Homo sapiens: one gene and its partners. The protein of the gene in region 2 purifies or fractionates together with the protein of the main gene of each other region. This does not show direct contact. Each region holds a gene or a part of one and is shown on either strand. Other genes may lie near its edges. The genes, in order: AGPAT3, KDELR3 and ALG8.

Evidence for each region.
Region 1: the proteins of KDELR3 (region 2) and AGPAT3 purify together in Homo sapiens (affinity purification with mass spectrometry; 2 studies listed by BioGRID and IntAct, with this or other methods). This does not show direct contact.
Region 3: the proteins of KDELR3 (region 2) and ALG8 purify together in Homo sapiens (affinity purification with mass spectrometry; 2 studies listed by BioGRID and IntAct, with this or other methods). This does not show direct contact.

Annotation. Positions count from the first base shown.
Region 1 is NC_000021.9:43,980,193-43,987,300, reverse strand, and holds part of AGPAT3 (1-acyl-sn-glycerol-3-phosphate acyltransferase gamma), read right to left. Parts: intron 6,313-7,108; coding exon 6,114-6,312; intron 4,998-6,113; coding exon 4,909-4,997; 3' UTR 1-4,908. UniProt on the Homo sapiens protein: Converts 1-acyl-sn-glycerol-3-phosphate (lysophosphatidic acid or LPA) into 1,2-diacyl-sn-glycerol-3-phosphate (phosphatidic acid or PA) by incorporating an acyl moiety at the sn-2 position of the glycerol backbone.
Region 2 is NC_000022.11:38,471,006-38,478,113, reverse strand, and holds part of KDELR3 (ER lumen protein-retaining receptor 3), read right to left. Parts: intron 3,592-7,108; coding exon 3,491-3,591; intron 1-3,490.
Region 3 is NC_000011.10:78,101,540-78,108,647, forward strand, and holds part of ALG8 (dolichyl pyrophosphate Glc1Man9GlcNAc2 alpha-1,3-glucosyltransferase), read right to left. Parts: intron 6,226-7,108; coding exon of another isoform or gene 6,178-6,225; intron 5,408-6,177; coding exon 5,268-5,407; intron 2,915-5,267; coding exon 2,817-2,914; intron 2,514-2,816; coding exon 2,441-2,513; intron 1,410-2,440; coding exon of another isoform or gene 1,351-1,409; exon of another isoform or gene 1,335-1,350; intron 1-1,334.

The DNA of each region.
Region 1 (7,108 bases), on a different chromosome or scaffold from region 2:
GAAAAGTGCCATCGGCAGGATGGCCTCCAAGGAAACAGAGCCCGTGGGAGTGGGCTCTGAAGGTGGGTGGCCCCATGGGACAGGAGTGCCTGGTGGCCCTGGTTTCCCCTTGGAGACATCTATGCAGACTGGAAACGAAGAAACAGAAGGAGGCACGGAGTCGCTTTCTCTTATATTGTGGATATTTTATCCCTGTCTTTCACAGCAGCAATTTTAATAAACAGATGCCTGCAGCATTTCACCACTACACAAGAGCTACTCGCGCTCGGGCAGGCGCACACCTGCCTGTGTACACAGGTCCTCGCACAGCACGGCAAACGCAGCCAGGCCTTTGGGACACAGGCCTCTGAAGTGTAAGTTAGCAGCCCTCACCCCGACAAGCTTCTAAAGACCAAAAATACCTCTATCCTCCACTACATAAAGCTTGTGAGTAGCAAAACTTGTAAAAATGAAGTGTACAAAAGGAAACATCCGTATAATACATTTGCACCCTGTATACAATGGGTCCCTTTGAAACTGGCCAACAGTCAGCGATGGCAGATTTTCAATCATAGAAAAAGAAGCCAGTGGCTGTCATGCGCACTCAGGTCAATGGTTTGTGTGGGTTCTCCAGAGAGAGAGATTTTCCTTTACAGTTACAGTACTTGCTGGCGATCTTGCTGATTAAAAGGCCAGTTGAATTTCCTGGCATTTAGGCAAGTAACATTTGATTGTCACAACGTACAATTCTGAGACAATAAATACAAGTAGATCAGATGCATTTCTTCATTGTATCAAGTAACTCCAGTTTAATGTAATACAATTTAGTGCATTTCAGTATCTCATTCACAGTTCGACTTCTGTCCAAATACTTGTGCAACAAAAAGTTAAGAAATGGAGACGAACTCCAGGTGACATTGTCATTACACAGCTTCAAATTCTAAGACAACTCAATGATCTTTGAAAAGCGTACGCTGCTGTTGCCTGGGCCGGCGACACCAATGTCCCTGGTAACTTCCTGGGCTCCCTAAAAGTGTTCCCGTCATTCTATTTCCCGAGCAGTTTGTAAGAATGCCACCATTATCCCTGAATTAACAAGCAGCCAGTGGCGAGTGTTCATGATAAAACTGAATTCATGTGTCCACCCCACTCCAGCAGATCAGTGTGACATCTTTTACGCAAAAATTGTTTTTGCATCCTGGCCCCGATAGGCAGGAATACGGAGCCGGATGTCTGCATCCCCCAGGTCGGCCCCACGGCAGGGGTATGGGGCAGAGCCAGGGCGGAGTCAGGGGTGTGGCCGGCCCCATCCCCCGAGGCCCGAGGGGGCTTGCCTTTGGTTTGGGGACTAGCTCAGTAGAGAAAGGGGCAGGCACACGGCCGGGGACGTGCTGTTTCCAGAAAGAAGGCAGGCAGGCTTTTCGGGCTGGCCGTTTGAACCCTGAGCCTAGGTGCAGTGCAAGGGCTAGAAGCACATCGCGCCGTGGAGCACTAGTATTGCACGCCAGGGGCTGCATGCAGTGAGCCACAGGCCAGAGGCCTGCAGCGGGAGTCTACGCATGGGGCTGAACAAGTCAGGTGAAAATCTGCAGGGCTGGAGAGATTATACTTGGCTTGTTGTAGAAGTGTCTCAGGTAGAGACAAAGCATGCAGAAACTTACTCATTCTTCACCCCAAATCTGACCCCAACCGGTAGTCACAACAGGCATGGACAGCCTGGCAACAGCTACTCAATTGCACGTGAGTGAAACACACAGCTGGGTCCAACCACGGCTTTTCCTTCAAATCAACATCAATGCTCAGCAATACCGCAACGAACAGCGTGAGGAAAGATTCTCATGCCACGGTGCGCGAAAGGGAGTCGGGACAGGCAAGGCAGAGAGACTCAAAATTCATCGACAGGACGTGCTTTTTTTTTTTTTTTACACAAGAAAGTGCTGCTTACATTGTTGTTTTGTGTTATTTAGTGATTTGTTCAGCGCTCATCTCTTCCACCAGACTGCGCTTCCTGAGGACAGGGACCTTAAAGCACCTCACATAGGGTGCGCGTCTGGTACACTGTCGCCGAGTACCAGACAACCAGTGTCTCACACGGGGGAAGACGATGAAGACAGCAATGGCATCCTTGGGAAGATGGGCAGGAGACCCCATGACACCTGGCACCTGGGCCTAAGCTGGGAGGCCAGCGGCGTCCCCAGGAGACCACGGCCCAGGCTGGGAGCTTGACCGGCCAGACGCCCGTGGGTGGGCCTGGGCCCTCCCGCCTGGGAGCCTCCAGTGTGGCGCCTGGCTCTGGGTGGGTAACAGGAGCTACAGGCCAGCAATGCCCTTCCTGTCCTCGGCCTGGCTCAAGGACTGGGTGCAGAGGGCATCAGCGATGCCAGGCCTAGAATGTGCCTCACCCCGACAGTGGCCAGCACGGACTGTGGGCTACAGAGTTGCTTCAGCCTGAGCACTCAGCCTGAATTTGGACATAACATCAACTGAATTAAGCTCAGAAGTAGGGTGTAAAGGAAAAAGAAAAAAAAAAGACTGTTCTGGGATTTATGAATTTAATTTAAAAAATGTAAAGGAGCTCTCCTCCCCTTTTCCTTCTGGATGAAAAGCAAAATCCACCCTCCCCCCCCCAAAAAAAAAAAATTCAAACATTCATGGTGTAGTTTTTATTGCTCTTAAAGACTTGGTGTTGAGAAGCACAAGCTAAGCTGTGAGATGGGAAGGAAACCAGATGAGGTGTGACCCCTGCGCCTGGGCCTCCGTCTCCACTCTAACCTAGGGGCTGCCCAGCTCCGCCATGGCTCAGTGCAGAATTTATACATTATATATTAATTTCAAAGGGAGGGAACTTCTATGGGAAACAATAATAATTAAATCATAAAAGATCTAAATTTGCATTTTCCAGGTCACATATGTGCATGGTCGTACCCTTCAGCTTTTTTCCTTAAAGATTTTGCAGGTGTTAGTGAGTCAGTGAATGGCATGGATCTAAACACACATGGAGACGGATGAGCAGCGTGCGGCATGAGGAAGGTGCAGGAGAATCTCTGGGGTGCTCAGCCAGGGGAGCGCATGCCCTGCCCACGGCACAGCTGCCCGAGTGGGCGGGTGGAGGGATGAGATTTCAGATGGAGGGAAGCACATTTCCAAAACAACAGTGTCTGCAAGCGTGTCTCGCATGGTGTCGTTGGTCTCATCTGGTTTCGTTGGTCTGCCCCTTCACCCCTGCGAGGAGCCGTGCTCTGAGCAGGTGTGCACAGGTGGCGTCCCGCACACGCCCTGAGAGCACGGCCCCCACAGACCCGGGGCCCGGCAGCGCCTCCATCATGCAGAACGCTGCCGTCCCCTCCAATCTCCCCAGGACACTTAGGCCCGATGCCTAATTATGTTCTCGGTTTACTTTTCTTCATGCCTCTTTTCTCCATTTGTTTTCCCCTAGAAAACTCAACCTACCTCTATTCAGAACGCTGGTTTCAAGATATCAGAGATAACACCCATTTTGGTTTTTTTACCTTGCTAAAAAGATGAGGGCGCTGTGACTTAGAACAAGCAAGTCGAAAGCCAAATGCAGGTGGGCTGATGGTACCGCAACCAAGTTGAGCGTTCTACCACTGCCATTGCCCCAGGGGCCCCACCTGGCCATGCCGGGGGAGTGGACATGCTGTAGGGAGAAGCATCCCTCGCTCGGCGTGGGCCAGGGGCTCGCTGCAAGGCCAAGGGAGCCAGCATGACCGGCCGAGCGCTGCCCTCTGCTCTGCCTGGACTCTCAGAGACGTCCAGGAGGTAGGGAGCTGGGCGCTCAGGGGTGGCCGGGCCACAGTGACACCGGCCAGGATGGGGGCGGGCCTTCCCCAAGGACACAGTGCGAGGCTGGGGGGTGGGGGGTGCCCCACCTCTAGTTTCCAGCAGGAAGTTGAAAACCACCAAGAGATCAACCAGTAAAAATAAAATCTCTAGAAGTCAATGAGCTCAGTGTTAACAGTCTCCAACCACCTTTAAAAAACAGAGGGTTGACGGTGCCGTCGCTTCTTCTGAAGCATCCTAGAGTCCCACAGGCTGCCCTGTTCTCCCTCCTTGGCTCCTGATCTGTGGGATGGGGGGGCGCGCGGTAGCCCCGAGGGTCCTCCCTCCCCAGCACCCAGTGTGGAGGGACCAGGATCTGACAGCCATGAGAGCGACAAAGGAGCTTTAGGTGCATGGAGAACTCTGCATTTCACTGAGTTCTCAGGGGCCCATCCACTTTAAAAACAGATGTACGTATTTACACACAAGGTCAGATAGGAGCTAGGACAGACAGGGCTCTAGAAAGTGAGGTGGGGCGTTCGCCCTCAGCCAGCCCCAGGACAGGGCAGAGTGAGGGCTCCGACTTCGAGGAATGGACCTGACGTTCGTGCCGGTGTGCTTATCACTACGGGCGCCCTCCACGGGGCCCCCACTGGGAGCCAAGGTGCTGAGCCGAGCGATGCTCCCGGGGGACGGGACCCGGCCGTCCACTCCCAGGAGGACAGCAGAAATTCATTACGAGACAGTTTCGGGGGCGGGGGGTGCAGAAGAGGTGAGGGGCCAGGTTAAGTTCCCAAGATAACTGATTAAAAACCAAAAAATTTGATCTAAGTTTAAGGAGAGAAAGCAGCCAAAGGCTCCCTCTTGGAAGCGGAGTTCTGGAGAGACGGCGTCCGCGGGAGGCCTCTCCGGCCGGACCCACCTCCCACGGGCGCGCGTGGAGATGCTGGGACCCTGCGCTGTGGGAGGCTGAAGACTTCACCTGACAGGCCTTCTGAATTCTTTACTCTTGGCTCAAGTTTTGTTAATATTAGTCACCAGTTAATAAGAAAAATAGTTTCTAATTGTCTTTTCCTGCACTCTGTGTGTTGGTTTTGAGTTAACTGGATACCACCGTCAGGGCCGCGTGTGTTCAGTCACAGCCATTAATTATTCCTTTTTCTTAAACTCTTGGTTTCCGTAGCTGGAGCCTTTTTCTATCTCAGTTACTCCTATCAGTCTGCGAACTCCAAAGGAAGCTTTCAAGACAGGAGAGAGAGAGAAGAGGTGAGACGGATGACTTTGCCTTTTTGCTGTAAAACGTGTTACTGGGGCTTCCTTCCTCTGCCCCAGACCCTGTCCCTCTGCCCCGCACCCAGTGGCCTCTGCTGTCAGTGAGTAGGTGTGGCCCGCGGGGAGACAGCCCTCTCAGACCGTGGTCTGCTCAGGCAGGGGTGAGGGGCACGTCTTCTGACCGGCTGGGTCCGAGGCAGGTGGACACGTGGACCTTGCCCTGCCTGCCCCTCTGGGTCTTTGGCTGGTGGGAGCAGAAGGGCTTCGGGGCATTCTAACAGCTCGGCCTTGCAAACCCAACAGGTGACAGAGGTGGACGAGCAGGACCCTCGGATGTAAGCAGGTCACATCCTGTCCTCTGTGGGTGGCCTCAAGTCATCTCGTAGTCCAATGGGAGAGGCTGGTGGCAGTCACTGCCTCTCAGGACCCCTCCCACCAAGGCCCCTGGCAGGGGCGGCAGGAGCAGGGGAGGAGCTGGCCCAGCTGCTGGGCCTGGGGAGTCGGCTCACGGGGCGATGCACACGGACTGTGTCTCCACGGACAGAGACCCCTCAATTACGGGGTGTGGGTGGGCGCCGGAGCTCACCACAGGGACAGGCTGGGTGTCTGTTCGGCCCCAGGCTAGCTGATGAGTCGTGGTGGGCCTGGCATTGTGCCTGGGGTGGGCACACAGTGGGGAAGTCACTGGGGGTCAATGGGGAGGAGCTGAATGATGATGTCCTGCTTAAACCTCCCGAATGGCCAGCCCAGCCTGACCCCTAAGAGCCCAAAAGCAGACAGGGGGGCTGGGGACCCTCTCGGGGACCCTCTCGTCGGCATCCTCAAGGGCGCCAGCCAGTGGGGCTGCAGTGGGGATGGCGCCAGGTGGCGGCCGTTCGGCTCTCTGGGGAGGCGACCCTCAGCTCAGTGCAAGAATCCAGGCTCTGAGGCCCGCAGGCCGTGGGGGGATCCTGGCTCCAGGGTCCATAACAGCCAGGCCCCTGCCTCCCACAGCCACTGTGATGAGTCACCAGGTCCCGGACCCTGTGGCTGATACTGTGAGGCCCGTCAGAGTGTGAGCTGTTAGCGACAGTGTCCATTACCTGCTCCCACAAACCCCAAGAAAGTCAGGATCAGGAGAGGTGATCCGCTGGCAAAGACGCCCAAGACAAAACTGAAGAGGGGAGACAGGAGAATGGTGGCCCAGGACAGGAAGTTCAGGAGGGTCCACGGCCTCCGGGCAGGCTTAAACTGCTCCCCTGGAAACATGCCCTTCTGATTATATATCTCCTGGAGCGCGTCCTAGAAGAGTCAACAGAGAAAAAGGAAGCGTGAGGCTTCTTTACAAGCTATTATTTCAATGCAGGAGAAGATTGTTGGCAATGAAAAACGACTCAACCTAAAAAAAGCGCCACGTCAATTAAGAGCACAAATCACAGAAGCTGCAGGTGCAGGCGAAGCTGGCTGTACGTTTTTGGAGAATCTGATAGCGTGCATCGAGAGCTCGCAAGCATATCAACCCTTTGACTGAGGAAGTCTCCCAGGAAAATAATCGGTCAAGAAAGCAACGTTGTGAATACCAACACCTGCCTGCCCAGCACTGCCCCGGCCACCCGCCACATCCCACACCTCCCACGAGCCAGAGGCAGTGGGGGTGGCAGGTGTGGCCTGTGTGAGTCCCGCGGCCTGGATGCAAATCCCTGCAAAGCGCACTCTCAGCTGCACGGCCCAAGGAAAGTTCCTTAACCTCGCATACCTCGGTTTCCTAGCCTGGCAAAGGAGGCTAATGAGGAGCTGGGAGGAGAGAGGAGCCTGGCCAGGGCCACCTGCAGAAGGTTCTGCCTCTGGTGGGAATGTCAAAGGCACAGGCTGGCAGGAAATCACCATGCCTGATAGAGCAGACACTCCGCAGCCACTGCCCGTGGGCGGGGCAGCCCGTGGGACTCTAGGATGCTTGGGAAGTAGTGAAGGGCACCATCAACTCTCTCGTTTTTTTTTGTTTTTTTTTTTTTTTTGAGATGGAGTCTCACTCTGTCGCCCAGGCTGGAGTGCAGTGGTACGATCTCGGCTCACTGCAACCTCTGTCTCCCGGGTTTAA
Region 2 (7,108 bases):
GTCGCCATAGCTCCATGTGAACATACTCATTTTAGCCCGTGATCACATGCTCTGTAAATGTCTAGGTACAAGTCCATCTCCCCTCTAAGAGAGGACTCCGTGGCAAGGTCCACCTCCTAATCCCCAGCTCCTAACTCAGTCCCTGGCACAAAACAAATGCTGGAATGAGTGAATGAGGTGGTCACTTTTTCATTTCATAAATGTAGAAACTAGCCTCTTTGAGCTTCCTAGACCTCATTCAGCTATGGCAAGGGCTGAGTCTGCTGTCTCTGCCAGGAATGCCCAAGGCTGACTTGGGCTGAGAAATGAACTAGCAGGTGATGTTTGATACATGTGTGAACTTAAGTAGACGGTGATTTCCAGTCCTCAGATTCACATTCACTAAATCTGAATGAGTTCAACACCTCACAAGTAACAGCAACCTCCACTCTACCAACTAGTAACAACATGCCTGAAATCCCAAAGGGATGTCTCTGATATGGAAGAAAAGGACAACTCACTTTAGTTAAATATTTTCTAGGTGCTGTATGTTATCTCATGTGATCTTCTCAATAGCCCTGCAAGATAGAATTCCCCCATGGAACCCTTGTTCCTTAGAAATAAGATTCCTAGGCCAGGCACGGTGGCTCTCGCCTGTAATCCCAGCACTTTGGGAGGCCGAGGAGGGTGGATCACGAGGTCAGGAGTTCGAGACCAGCCCGGCCAACATAGTGAAACCCCGTCTCTACTAAAAATACAAAAATTAGCCAGGCATGGTGGTGTGCACCTGTAATCCCAGCTACTCAGGAGGCTGAGGCAGGAGAATTCGCTTGAACCTGGGAGGCGGAGGTTGCAATGAGCCGAGATCACACCACTGCACTCCAGCCTGGGCAACAGAGGGAGACTGTCTCAAAATAAAAAAGACTGGGCATGGTGGCTAATGCCTGTAATCCCAACACTTTGGGAGGCCGAGGTGGGCAGATCACGAGGTCAGGAGACCATCCTGGCTAACATGGTGAAACCCCGTCTTTATTAAAAATACAAAAAAAAAAAAAAAAAAGTTAGCCAGGCATGGTGGCACACATCTGTAATCCCAGCTACTCGGGAGGCTGAGGCAGAATCTCTTGAACTTGGGAGGTGGAGGTTGCAATGAGCCGAGATCGCGCCACTGCACTCCACCCTGGGCGACAGAGCTAGATTCTGTCTAAACAATAAATAAATAAATAACTTGAACCCGGGAGCAGAGACTGCAGTGAGCCAAGATCGTGCCACTGCACTCCACTCTGTCTCAAAAAAAAAAAAAAAAGGGGGGGCCAGGTGTGGTGGCTCACGCCTGTAATTCCAACACTTTGGGGGGCCAAGGTGGGCAGATCACGAGGTCAGGAGTTTGAGACCAGCCTGGCCAACATAGTGAAACCCCGTCTCTATCAAAAAATACAAAAAGTAGCCGGGCGTGGTGGTGGGTGCCTGTAATCCCAGCTACTCTGGAGGCTGAGGTAGGAGAATTGCTTGAATCCAGGAGGCAGAGGTTGCAGTGAGCCGAGATTGCACCACTGCACCCCAGCCTGAGCCACAGTGCAAGACTCCATTTCAACAACAACAAAAAAGAAGACTCCTGGCCGGGCGCAATGGCTCACACCTGTAATCCCAGCACTTCGGGAGGCCGAGGCGGGCAGATAACAAGGTCAGGAGATCGAGACCATCCTGGCTAATAAGGTGAAACCCTGTCTCTACTAAAAATACAAAACTTAGCTGGGCGCAGTGGCAGGCGCCTGTAGTCCCAGCTACTCGGGAGGCTGAGGCAGGAGAATGGCGTGAACCCGGGAGGCGGAGCTTGCAGTGAGCCGAGATTGCCCCACTGCACTCCAGCCTGGGCGACAGAGCGAGACTCCGTCTCAAAAAAAAAAAAGACTCCTAGCTGATCATGGTAATTCCAGAACTTCGGGAGACTGACACAGGCAGATCACTTGAGCCCAGGGGTTTGAGACCAGCCTGGGCAACATGGTGAAATCTTGTCTCTATTAAAAATACAAAAAAATTAGCCAGGCATGGTGGTGCGTGCCTGTAGTCCCAGCTACTCAGGAGTCTGAGGTGGGAGGACCCCTTCAGCCCGGGAAGTTGAGGCAGTGAGCCATGATCGCACCACTGCACAAGAAATAAGATTCCTATTAGATAATGTGTCCAACTAAAATCTACATCTTGGCTGGGCATGGTGGCTCACACCCATAATCCCAGCACTTTGGGAGGTCGAGGTGGGTGGACCACTTGAGGTCAGGAGCGTGAGACCAGCCTGGCCAACATGGAGAAACCCTGTCTCTCCTAAAAATACAAAAATTAGCTGGACATGGTGGCACATGCCTGTAGTCCCAGCTACTTGGGAGGCTGAGGCACAAGGCAAGCTCCCGGCTTGAAACCAGGAGGTGGAGGCTGCAGTGAGCTGAGATTGCGCTGCTGCACTCCAGCCTGGGCAACAGAAAACAGTGAGACTCCGTCTTAAAAAAACAGAAAGAAGGTGTGTCCTTTGATCTTTACATGGCTGGTTCCTTGTTGTCACTAAGCTGTCAGCTTACATGTCATCTCTTTGAAGATGCCCTGACCACACTCCCTGAAGTAGCTCTCTAATCCTTCTCTATCACCTAAATAATTTTTTTTTTCTTGAGACGGGATCTCACTCTGTTGCCCAGACTGGAGTACAGTGGCATGATCATGGCTCACTGCAGCCTTGATCTACCAAGATCAGGTGATTGTCCCACCTCAGCCTCCTGAGTAGCTGGGACCACAGATGAGCACCACTACGCCCAGCTAAATTTCTTAAATTTTATGTAGAGGCGGAGTCTCACTGCATTGCCCAGGCTGGTCTCAGACTCCTGAGCTCAAGCGGTCCTCTCGCCTTGGCCTCCCAAAGTGCTGGGATTACAGGTGTGACCCTTTATTGAATGTTTAATATATGGCAGGGTTTTTTACATTTACATTTATTATCTCATTTAATGTTCCCAACCAAACCCTCTGAGCTAAGTAATGGTACTGTCTTTTTTTTTTTTTTTTTTTTTTTTTTGAGACAGAGTCTCACTCTGTCACCCAGGGTGGAGTGCAGTGGCGCGATCTCGGCTCACTGCAACCTCCGCCTCCCAAGTTCAAGCAACTCTCCTGCCTCAGCCTCCTGAGTAGCTGGGACTGCAGGCATGAGCCACCACGCCCGGCTAATTTTTTGTATTTTTAGTAGAGACAGGGTTTCACCTTGTTAGCCAGGATGGTCTCCATCCGCCCGACTCGGCCTCCCAAATTGCTGGGATTACAGGCATGAGCCACAGTGCCCAGCCCTGTCCTCATTTTTGCACGAGGACACTGACATACAAAGAGGCCCAAGATGAGGTCTTGCAGCCACTAAGCAGCAAAGTCAGGATTCAAACCCAGGTCGGCCTGGCTCCACAGAATGAGTTTCCAAGCAGGCTACCTCACAGTTTGTGGGGGCTTGGTGGCTTCCCCCAACCATCATCACCCAGCCCCTCACCTTCATTACTGTGTTGTAGATGGAGATGAAGTTGGTGAACAGGTCCAGGTACCTGGTGGTGAAGACGAGAGCAAACAGGATCTGGCTCTTCCCAGAGATGCCTGTGGCCAAGGGTAGACAGGAGACAATGAGGACACAGACTCCCAAGCCTGCCCACCCTCAAGAGGTGCACAGCCTGGAGCTGGGGAGGCCTCTAGAGTGTCCACTCCCACTCAAAGACCTCCTGTCCAGGGCACTGTCGCTCCCTAAGGGCCAGGAAACTCACCCTTCCCATCGGATCACTTGAGTCGTCGTTCCTCTCATTAAACTGTAATCTGTCTCCCAGTCTCCAAATAAAGACACGAACACCGAGTTCCCAGTCCCCCTGCGTGTGCCTGCCTGGGCTCTTGCTCTGGGGAGGATGTCGGGGGTGGTGTGAGTCGGGCTTGGTGGGGGTTGTTGAGGCTTCTCTTCACTCCACCCCCAGAGTTCCACTGACAGTCCCCAAAGCTCAGTCTTAGGAGGAACAACTCACTGACTTTACAAGGTGTTGATTCACCAGGGAGACCAGAGCAGGCAGAGGAAGGTTCAGGGCCAGGGGAGCATTCTATTTTATTTTTCAAACTGTAAGATTTAAAAAGCCTTTTTTCTTTTTTCTTTTTTCTTTTTTTGAGATGGAGTCTCACTCTGTTGCCCAGGCTGGAGTGCAGTGGCGTGATCTCGGCTCACCACAACCTCTGCCTCCTGGGTTCAAGTGATTCTCCTGCCTCAGCCTCCGAAGTAGCTGGGATTACAGGTGCCTGCCACCACGCCTGGCTAATTTTTGAATTTTTAGTAGAGACGGAGTTTCGCCAGGTTGGTCATGGCTGGTCTCAAACTTCTGACTTCAAGTGATCTGCCCGCCTTGGCCTCCCAAAGTGCTGGGATTACAGGCATGACCCACCACGCCCAGCCAAAAAGCCTTTTTTCTAGTTACAAAAGTTATGCCTATATTTACTCTTTGCAAAACAAAAATCAAACAATATACAAAGATGCAAAGATAAAAATATTCCAAACCCCTAGTGTTCATCCTTCCATATCTTTGTGAACATGTACACACATGACACCTATGTGTACACATATGATGCACATGGATGCACTGAGTTGACAAAAAAGGGTTCATACTCTCCATGATGTTTCTTTCTTTTTTATTTTTTTCTTTTTAGAGAAAGGGTCTTACTCTGTCTCCCAGGCTGGGGTGCAGTGGTGCAATCATAGCTCACTGCAGCCTCTATCTCCTGGACTCAAACAATTCTCCTATCTCAGCCTCCCGAGTAGCTGGTAACTACAGACACAAACCATCAGACTGGCAAATTTTATTATTAATTATTATTATTATTATTTTTGTAGAGACAGAGTTTCACTATGTCGCCCAGCCTGGTCTCAAACTCCTGGGCCCAAGTGATCCTCCTACCTCATTCTCTCAGTGTTGGGATTATAGGCGTGAGCCACCGCGCCCAGTCTAAATGCTGTTTCTTGACCCACTTTGGTCTCTTTCTTTTTTTAACTTTTTATTTTGAAAGAATGTTAGATTTACAACAGAGTTGTAAAGACAGTACAGAGAATCCCACATATCCAGCTATATCTAGTGTTAACATCGTATTTGGGCCGGGGGCGGTGGCTCATGCCTGTAATCCAACACTTTGGGAGGCCGAGGCGGGCAGATCACCTGAGGTTGGGAGTTTGAGACCAAGCCTGACCAACTTGGAGAAACCCCATCTCCACTAAAAAATACAAAATTAGCCAGGTGTGGTGGCTCATGCCTGTAACCCCAGCTACTTGGGAGGCTGAGGCAGGAGAATCGCTTGAACCCAGGAGGTGGAGGTTGCAGTGAGCCGAGATCGTGCCATTGCACTCCAGCCTGGGCAACAAGAGCAAAACTCTGTCTTAAAAAACAAAACAAAACAAAACAAAAAAACATCGTATTTAGTGACAGTACTTTATCAAAACAAAGAAATCAACATCAGTAGAGCACTGTTGACTGAACTCCAGGCTTTATTCTGATTTCACCAGTTTTCCCACTGCTGCCCTTTTTCCATTCCTGGATTCCATCCCGGAATCCATGCTGCATTTTGTTGTCATGCTCCTTAGTGTCCTTTGGCCACTTTTTATTTATTTATTTATTTTTTGAGACAGAGTCTCACTCTGTCACCCAGGCTGGAGTGCAGTGGTGCGATCTCGACTCACTGCAACGTCTGCCTCCCGGGTTCAAGTCATTCTCCTGCCTCAGCCTCCCGGGTGGCTGGGATTACAGGCGCCCACCATCATGCCCGGCTAATTTTTGTGTTTTTAGTAGAGATGGGTTTTCACCGTGTTGGCCAGGCTGGTCTCGAACTCCTGACCTCAAGTGACTGCCCACTTCGGCCTCCCAAAGTGCTGGGATTACAGGCGTAAGCCACTGTGCCCGGACAGCAGTCTTGGTTATCAGATGGAAGAAACAGTATATATATAGGGTTTGGTTTAACCCGTGGTTTCAGGCATCCACTGGCAGTCTTGGAACATATCCTCCGTGGATAAGGGGGAACTACTGTGCTGTCTAATTCAGGGTCTGGTTCCCCTGTACCCCTGAACTGTGCCTTCTCTAACCATCCCTCTGGTTCCAGACATTTGGGGTGGGAGAACATTTTTTTTTCTTTTTTTGTGAGGCAGGGTCTCACTCTGTCACCCAGGCTGGAGTGCAGTGACACAATCACAGATCACTGCAGCCTCAACCTCCCAGGCTCGGATGACCCCCCTACCTTAGCCTCCTGAGTAGCTGGGACTACAGGCACATGCTACCATGCCCAGCTAATTTTTATATTTTTTCTAGAGACAAGATTTTGCCATGTTGCCCAAGCTGGTCTCAAATTCCTGGGCTCAGGTGATCCTCCTGCCTCAGCTTCCCAAAGTGCTGGGATTACATGGGTAAGCCACTGCACCCAGCCTGGGGGAACATTTTTAATGAGCAAGAAGGAACACCCCTGAAGTCCCTAACATTCTGGAGAATGTGCTGGCTTTAGGGCGAGCCTCGGTCTCACATTCCTCACCTGCCAAACGGCCCCTCATGCAGAGTGGCAGGACTGAGCTGAGGAATACACAGTGCTCAGTGAGAACCTGAGTCCCTCTGGGGGGTCTAGCACGCGCGCACGTGCACTAGCCGGGGTGAGGGCAACAGTGGGGCTGGCAGTGGGTAATGAACCCCACTGGGGGAGGCCATACTGACCTGAGGCCAGCTCTGGGATGGCCTGATGTTCATCTCACTGAGCCCTCACACAGACTTTGACAGAGAAGCCCTCAGCCCCACGAAGGACTGCCTGGGAGGCAGCCCTGGTGGGGGACGCTTGGTCACCCGCTTGGGCCTTCCCCTACCCCTCTTTTCTCTTCATCCTCAGCCTGCCAGTCCCCTGGGTTTTACTCACATTTTCCTTAGCACTTTGGGAACCCTTGTGATCTTCAGTTTTGTTTTGCTTGTTTGTTTGTTTGAGACAGAGTTCTGCTCTTGTTGCCCAGGCTGGAGTGCAATGGTGCAATCTCAGCTCACTGCAACCTCCGCCTCCCAGGTTCAAGCGATTCTCCTGCCTCAGCCTCATGAGTAGCTGGGATTACAGGCACCTGCCACCA
Region 3 (7,108 bases), on a different chromosome or scaffold from region 2:
AACTGCTTTAACTGGGTTGCAGTGAGTCGATATGGCACCACTGCACTCTAGCCTGGGCGACAGAGTGAGACTCTGTCTCAAAAAATAAATAAAAATAAAAAATAAGTTTCACATTTAGAAAAAAATGATAATTATATACGTTATATTATCTCAACAATCTAAATTTACTCCACCATTGACCTATGCTGTTATTTAGCTCAAGCTGCTCAGAGAGAATTAGTTCTGCATTTGAAAGAGGTAAAGGGGTTGGGTGCTGTGACATTGGAATAAGAACATGAGAAACAATATAGAATTGAAGATTTAAAAAAAATTTTCTTTTTGAGATGGAGCGTTGCTCTGTCACCCAGACTGGAGTGCAGTGGTGCAATCTCAGCTTACTGCAACCTCCACCTCCTGGGTTCAAGCGATTCTCTTGCCTCAGCCTCCCAAGTAGCTGGGATTACAGGCGCCTGCCACCATGCCCAGCTAATTTTTGTATTTTCTATAGAGACAAGGTTTCACCAGATTTTTAAAATATTTTTTATTTTGGTAAAATATATATAACATGAAATTTGCTATTTGTTTAACCATTTTTAAGTATACAGTTTGATGGTATTAAGTAGATCAATAATATGCGCCCATCGCCACTATCCACCTTCAAAATATTTTCGTGACCCCAAACAGAAACTCTGGAACCATTAACAATAACTTCCCATCCCCCTGTTCCCTCAACCTCTAATCTACTTTCTGTCTCTATGTTTGTTTATTCTAGAATTTCCTATCAGTGGAACGATATGATATTTGTTCTATTCTCTCGTTTCTTTCACTTAGCATGTTTTCAAGATTCATTCATGTAGCATGTATTGGAACTTCATTCTTTTCTTTGGCTGAATAATCCACTATATGTATATATCACACTTTATCATGTATTTGTTGATGGACATTGGGTTGTTTCCATCTTTTAGCTAGTATGAATAATGCTACAATGAATACTGATGTACAAGTATCTGTTGAGTCCCTGTTTCCATTCTTTTGGGTATAGGGGTGGAATTGCTGGGTCACATGGCTATAACTGCATTTTAACATAGTTAATTATATAAGTTTTTATGGACACAGTTATGAACCATAAGCAAGCTTTAAAAAATTACAGTTGGCCGGGCATGGTGGCTCACACCTGTAATGCCAGCACTTTGGGAGGCCAAGGACGGTGGATCACCTGAGGTCAGGAGTTTGAGACCAGCCTGACCAACATGGAGAAACCCATCTCTACTAAAAATACAAAATCAGCTGGGTGTGGTGGCGCATGCTTGTAATCCTAGCTGCTAGGGAGGCTGAGGCAGGAGAATCGCTTGAACCTGGGAGGCGGAGGTTTCAGTTAGCTGAGATCGTGCCATTGCACTCCAGCCTGGGCAACAAGGGTGAAACTCCGTCTCAAAAAAAAAAAAAAAAAATTATAGTTAACATTACATACAGTTTAGAAGAGAAAAAGTTTCCATCTATAATTCTGTAGTAAAATTTGTACATAGTTGGGTGCGGTGGCTCAACGCCTGTAATCCCAGCACTTTGGGAGGCCGAGGTGGGTGGATCACCTGAGGTTGGGAGTTCAAGACCAGCCTGACCAACACAGAGAAACCCCATCTCTAATAAAAATACAAAATTAGCCGGGCACAGCAGCTCACGCCTGTACTTCCAGCACTATGGGAGGCCAAGGTAAGTGGATCACCTGACGTCAGGAGCTCGAGAGCAGCCTGGCCAACATGGTGAAACCCCACCTCTACTAAAAATATAAAAAATTAGCCAGGTGTGGTAGTGATGCATACCTATAATCTCAGCTACTCAGGAGGCTGAGGCTGGAGAATCGCTTGAACCCAGGAGGCGGAAGTTGCAGTGAGTGGAGATCGCGCCACTGCACTCCAGCCTGGGCGACAAGAGTGAAACTCCGTCTCCAAAAAAAAAAAAATTAGCTGGGCATGGTGGCGCATGCCTGTAATCCCAGTAACTTGGGAGGCTGAGGCAGGAGAATAGCTTGAACCCGGTAGGCGGAGGGTGTGGTGAGCCGAGATCACGCCATTGCCCTCCAGCCTGGGCAACAAGAGCAAAACTCCGTCTCAAAAAAACGAACAAAAAAAATTTGTACATAGTATCTTTTAGTTTTTTCCATATCTATCTGTATTTAATAGTTTTATTCATAAAGCATATTTTACATTCAGTTTTTGAGTTTTCATATAGGATTTTAATTTAAGTAGTCCTCCTCAAATACTCCCCCAAACTAAAGACACAAACTATGTTGTCTCGACTGAGTGATGGGATTGAGTGATTTCTCCCTCTATTTACCAATTTTTTTTGTAATGTTGTCATATTACTGTTATAACTTAAAAATAAAATTTAAAGAGCTTATTTGACCACTTAGGTGTAAACATTTCACAAGAGTAAGTATAATTTTAAACATTTTTTTGATTACCTGAATAAAGTCTTCAGTGACGAAATACTATATATGGTGAATAGTAACATGAGTAAGATTTTAATGGGAAGTTCTGTTAAAAGAATAGAAAAAAAAAGATAATTTAGCTGATGACAGAAAGACTTATGATGCTGAAAGTAATATAAGCACACTGACACAGCTATATAGTGCTAATAATACTTTTTAAGTTTAATTTTACATTTTTGTGACATCTAGAGATGCTGAGAATTACAGGAAATTGGAGGTTTTATTTAAGAGGATGAATGATCTCTATCCAAGAGATTTTAGAGTTGTTTAAATTAGATGTATTAATCTGTGGGCCTCGATGAAAAGGTTGTGATAGTCAAATATATTTTTCTCAGAAGACGCTGTTTACCTGGTGCAGTGAAGAGCAGAGGAAAGAGGGAATAATGTCCTGTTGTGGTCAGAATCAGAAAAATCGAAGCGTCTCCTGCTTTTCCCACAGACAAAAGGCTAAAAATAAAAATAATTTCTTAAAACAACAACTGTTATTACACTTGCAAATAGCTTAAATAAACTGCATCTCCTATTACATTAGAACTGGCTGAGGCATAGAAGAACATGCTGATTTTGGCACAAGTTCAATTTAGTTGAGAATATTAATTTTTTAGTAGGAAATTTTAAGCAATCAATAGCATGTATCAAACTGAATCAGGGGTATCGTAAAAGAATCTTGCTTCTGGCCGGGGACAGTGGCTCATGCCTTTAATCCCAGCACTTTGGGAGGCCGAGGCGGGAGGATCACCTGAGGTCAGGAATTCAAGAGCAGCCTGGCCAACATGGTGAAACCCTGTCTCTGCTAAAAATACAAAAATTAGCTGGGCATGGTGGCGGGTGCTTGTAATCCCAGCTACTCAGGAGGCTGAGGCAGGAGAATTGCTTGAACCTGGGAGGCAGAGGATGCAGTGAGCCGAGATCGCGCCACTGCACTCCAGCCTGGGCAACAGAGCGAGACTCTGTCTCAAAAAAAAAAAAAAAAGAATCTTGCTTCCCTGAGTAATTGCCTTCTCCAAAGACAGGAATGTTGTGGGATTGGGAGCTGCCTAGTGGTGGCAGTCAGGGAAACAGGACTTGGAGTTTCATTTCCAACCCTATAGCTCATCTCTTGGACAATGCCCTTCACCTGCTGGTGTTTGGTGTGAATTCAGACTAAAGACATTAAAAGTTTTTGCTTTACTTTTTAATTTGGAAACTCCAAGCTGCTAAATAAACCCAGACAAGCCACATACTGGCCTGACAAATTTGCTTAATATATGTTCAGAGCTTAAATGATTTCTCAAGATTCAAGAAAAATATAAAGAAAGAGGCTATTATTACCATTTATTTATCTATTGGGTTTCAACTATGCCTAAACTGGACACTTACATTTAAAATGGTTTTTTTAGCATGGCATAGTGAAAAGATCATAGATTCAACATCATAAGATTCAGGTCCTAACTCTAATTCTTGCGACCTGTATGACTTTGGACAAGTCACAAACATTTTGAGCCCTAGATTCTTCAGATGTTAAGACAGGGAATAAGCCTGTTTTGTTGGCTCACATCTGCAATCCCAGCACTTTGGGAGGCTGAGGTAGGAAGACTGCTTGTGCCCAGTAGTTTGAGACCAGCCTAGGCAACATGGCAAGACCCTGTCTCTACCAAAAAGTAAAAAAAAAAAAAAGAAAGGAAAAAAAAGGGAATAATACCCATTTATTTTAACTATCTTTTTTTTTTTTCTTTTTTTGAGACAGGGTCTCACTCTATTGCCCCAGGCTGGAGTGCAGTGGCGCCATCTTGGCTCACTGCAACCTTCACCTCCCAGGTTCAAAGGATCTTCATGCCTCAGCCTCCCAAGTAGCTGGGATTACAGGCATGCACCACCATGCCTGGCTAATTTTTGTATTTTTAGTAGAGATGGGATTTTGCCATGTTGGCCAGGCTGATCTCAAACTCCTGGCATCAAGTGAACCACCGCTTCAGCCTCCGAAAGTACTGGGATTGCAGATGTGAGCCACCATGCCTGGCCAATTATCTTAAAGATTATTGTGAGGCGCAAAAGAAAGAATGCAAAACAAAAACAGTTCTGGAAAATCTGAAATGTAGTACAGTATCAGGTATTATTCCAGAATAGACTAAATCCTTACTTTGACTAACAACACTTAACAAGGAACCATGGGACCTTATTTTCAGACGGGATGACACCAAAGCCCAAGTTTTTTCTTTTTTTCATTTTTGAGACAGAGTCTCCTTCGGTCACCCAGAATGGAATGCAGTGGTGCGATCTCGGCTCACTGCAACCTCTTCCTCCCGGGTTCAAGCAATTCTCCTGCCTCAGCCTCCCGAGTAGCTGGGACTACAGGCATGTGCCACTATGCCCAGCTAATTTTTTGTATTTTTAGTAGAGATGGGGTTTCACCATGTTAGCCAGGATAGTCTCGATCTCCTGACCTCGTGATCTGCCCGCCTTGGCCTCCCTAAGTGCTGGGATTACAGGCGTGAGCTACCGCGCCCGGCCAGCCCAGGTTTTTTCTATAACATACTGTCCCTCAATGATCAGATCTAAAAGCCGGCTTTCATGGTACTTAATCACTACAGTGCTTCTTTCCAAAAACGCAGAAACAGAAATAGTACATGCATTTTTGCATACCTTCATGGGTCCAAGAATCTCAAGTTAAGCATCCCTGTCCTGTCCTAGTGGACATCTGTTCCTATACATCTTTGTTTTTGCCTATCCTGGTGAACATGACAAGAAGGGACAGAGCAAATAGAAAATAGGATCATTGTGAAATATGCCAAAATGCTCACTGGCTGAGCTATCTGCTTACCTCATTGGGAGAATTGCTAGAAGTATGGCTTTTTCATGAACATGCCACCCAAACATAAAGGAGCTCAAGGCACAAAGAGTTAGACATCGGAGAAAGCCTCTGGGCCCTTGGGGTTTAAACCAAAGACAGAAAATAGAGGGCTAGAAACAACAGGCAAAGATAAACTTCAGTATCATTTGAAACAGACTTTACAGAAACAGAGTTCAGGTGAATACAATTTGCATCATCTCTGAAAGACAGCCAATCTTAGACAATTCTTCATGAAACCGAATCATTCATCACTTTGTGCACAGTCTAACAAAAGTTAACATAAAAGCAACAACTCAGAAAAAATTGGCATTTGATGTGTATATATATATTTTTATATGTAAATAAATATATTTTATATGTAAATATATATATATATATATATATATAATTTTTTGTTTTTTTGAGACGGAGTCTCGCTTTGTTGCCAAGGCTGGAGTGCAGTGGTGCGATCTCGGCTCACTGCAACCTCCACCTCCTGGGTTCAAGCGATTTTCCTGCCTCAACCTCCCAAGTAGCTGGGATTACAGGTGCCTGCCACCACGCCCAGCTAATTTTTGTATTTTTAATAGAGACGGGGTTTCACCATGTTGGCCAGGCTGGTCTCAAAATCCTGACCTCGTGATCTGCCTGCCTTGGCCTCCCAAAGTGCTGGGATTACAGGTTTGAGCCACCGCACCTAGCCTTGATGTATATATTTAACTCATTAAAATTAATTCTACTGGCTGGGCATGGTGGCTCATGCCTATAATCCCAGCACTTTGGGAGGCCAAGGCAGGCAGATCACTTGAGGTTAGGAGTTCAAGAACAGCCTGACCAACATAGTGAAACCCCATCTCTACTAAAAATACAAAAAAAACTAGCTGGGCGTGGTGGTACATACCTGTATTCCCAGGTACTCTGGAGGCTGAGGCAGGAGAATCGCTTGAACCTGGGAGGCAGAGGTTGCAGTGAGCTGAAATTGCGCCACTGCACTCCAGCCTAGGTGACAGACCGAGACTGTCTCAAAAAAAAAAAAAAAAAAAAAAATTGGCCGGGCCTAGTGACTCACGCCTGTAATCCCAGAACTTTGGGAGGCTGATGCAAGTCGATTACGAGGTCAGGAGTTCAAGACCAGCCTGGCCAAGATGGTGAAACCCTGTCTCTACTAAAAACTACAAAAAAGGCCGGGTGTGGTGGCTCAGGCCTATAATCCCAGCACTTTGGGAGGCCGAGGTGGGCGGATCACGAGGTCAGGAGATCGAGACCATCCTGGACAACATGGTGAAACCCTGTCTCTACTAAAATACAAAAAAAATTAGCCGGGCGTGGTGGTGCATGCCTGTAGTTCCAGCTACTCAGGAGGCTGAAGCAGGGGAATCGCTTGAACCCAGGAGGTGGGGGTTGCAGTGAGCTGAGATCGTACCACTACACTCCAGCCTGGCAACAGAACAAGACTCCCGTCTCAAAAAACAAAAACAAAAACAAAAACAAAACTACTGCAAAACAATTAGCTGGGTGCAGTGGCAGGCGCCTGTAATCCCAGCTACTTGGGAGGCTGAGGCAGGAGAATCGCCACTGCACTCCAGCCTGGATGACGGAGTGAGACTCTGTCTCAAAAAAAAAAGAAATTAATTATACTATCAAAATTAATAATTAAGTTCTGGGATGTACAGTCTAACAACTTATTACATCTTCATAATTAGTTTACTAATAGTTCATTTATTAATGAACCTAATAGGTCAAACTACAGAAGTCCATAGATGCTTTTGAGCCAATAAATTAGATTTACCATATTAATAAATACTTAGTTTTATTGGCTGGAAGGCCATAGA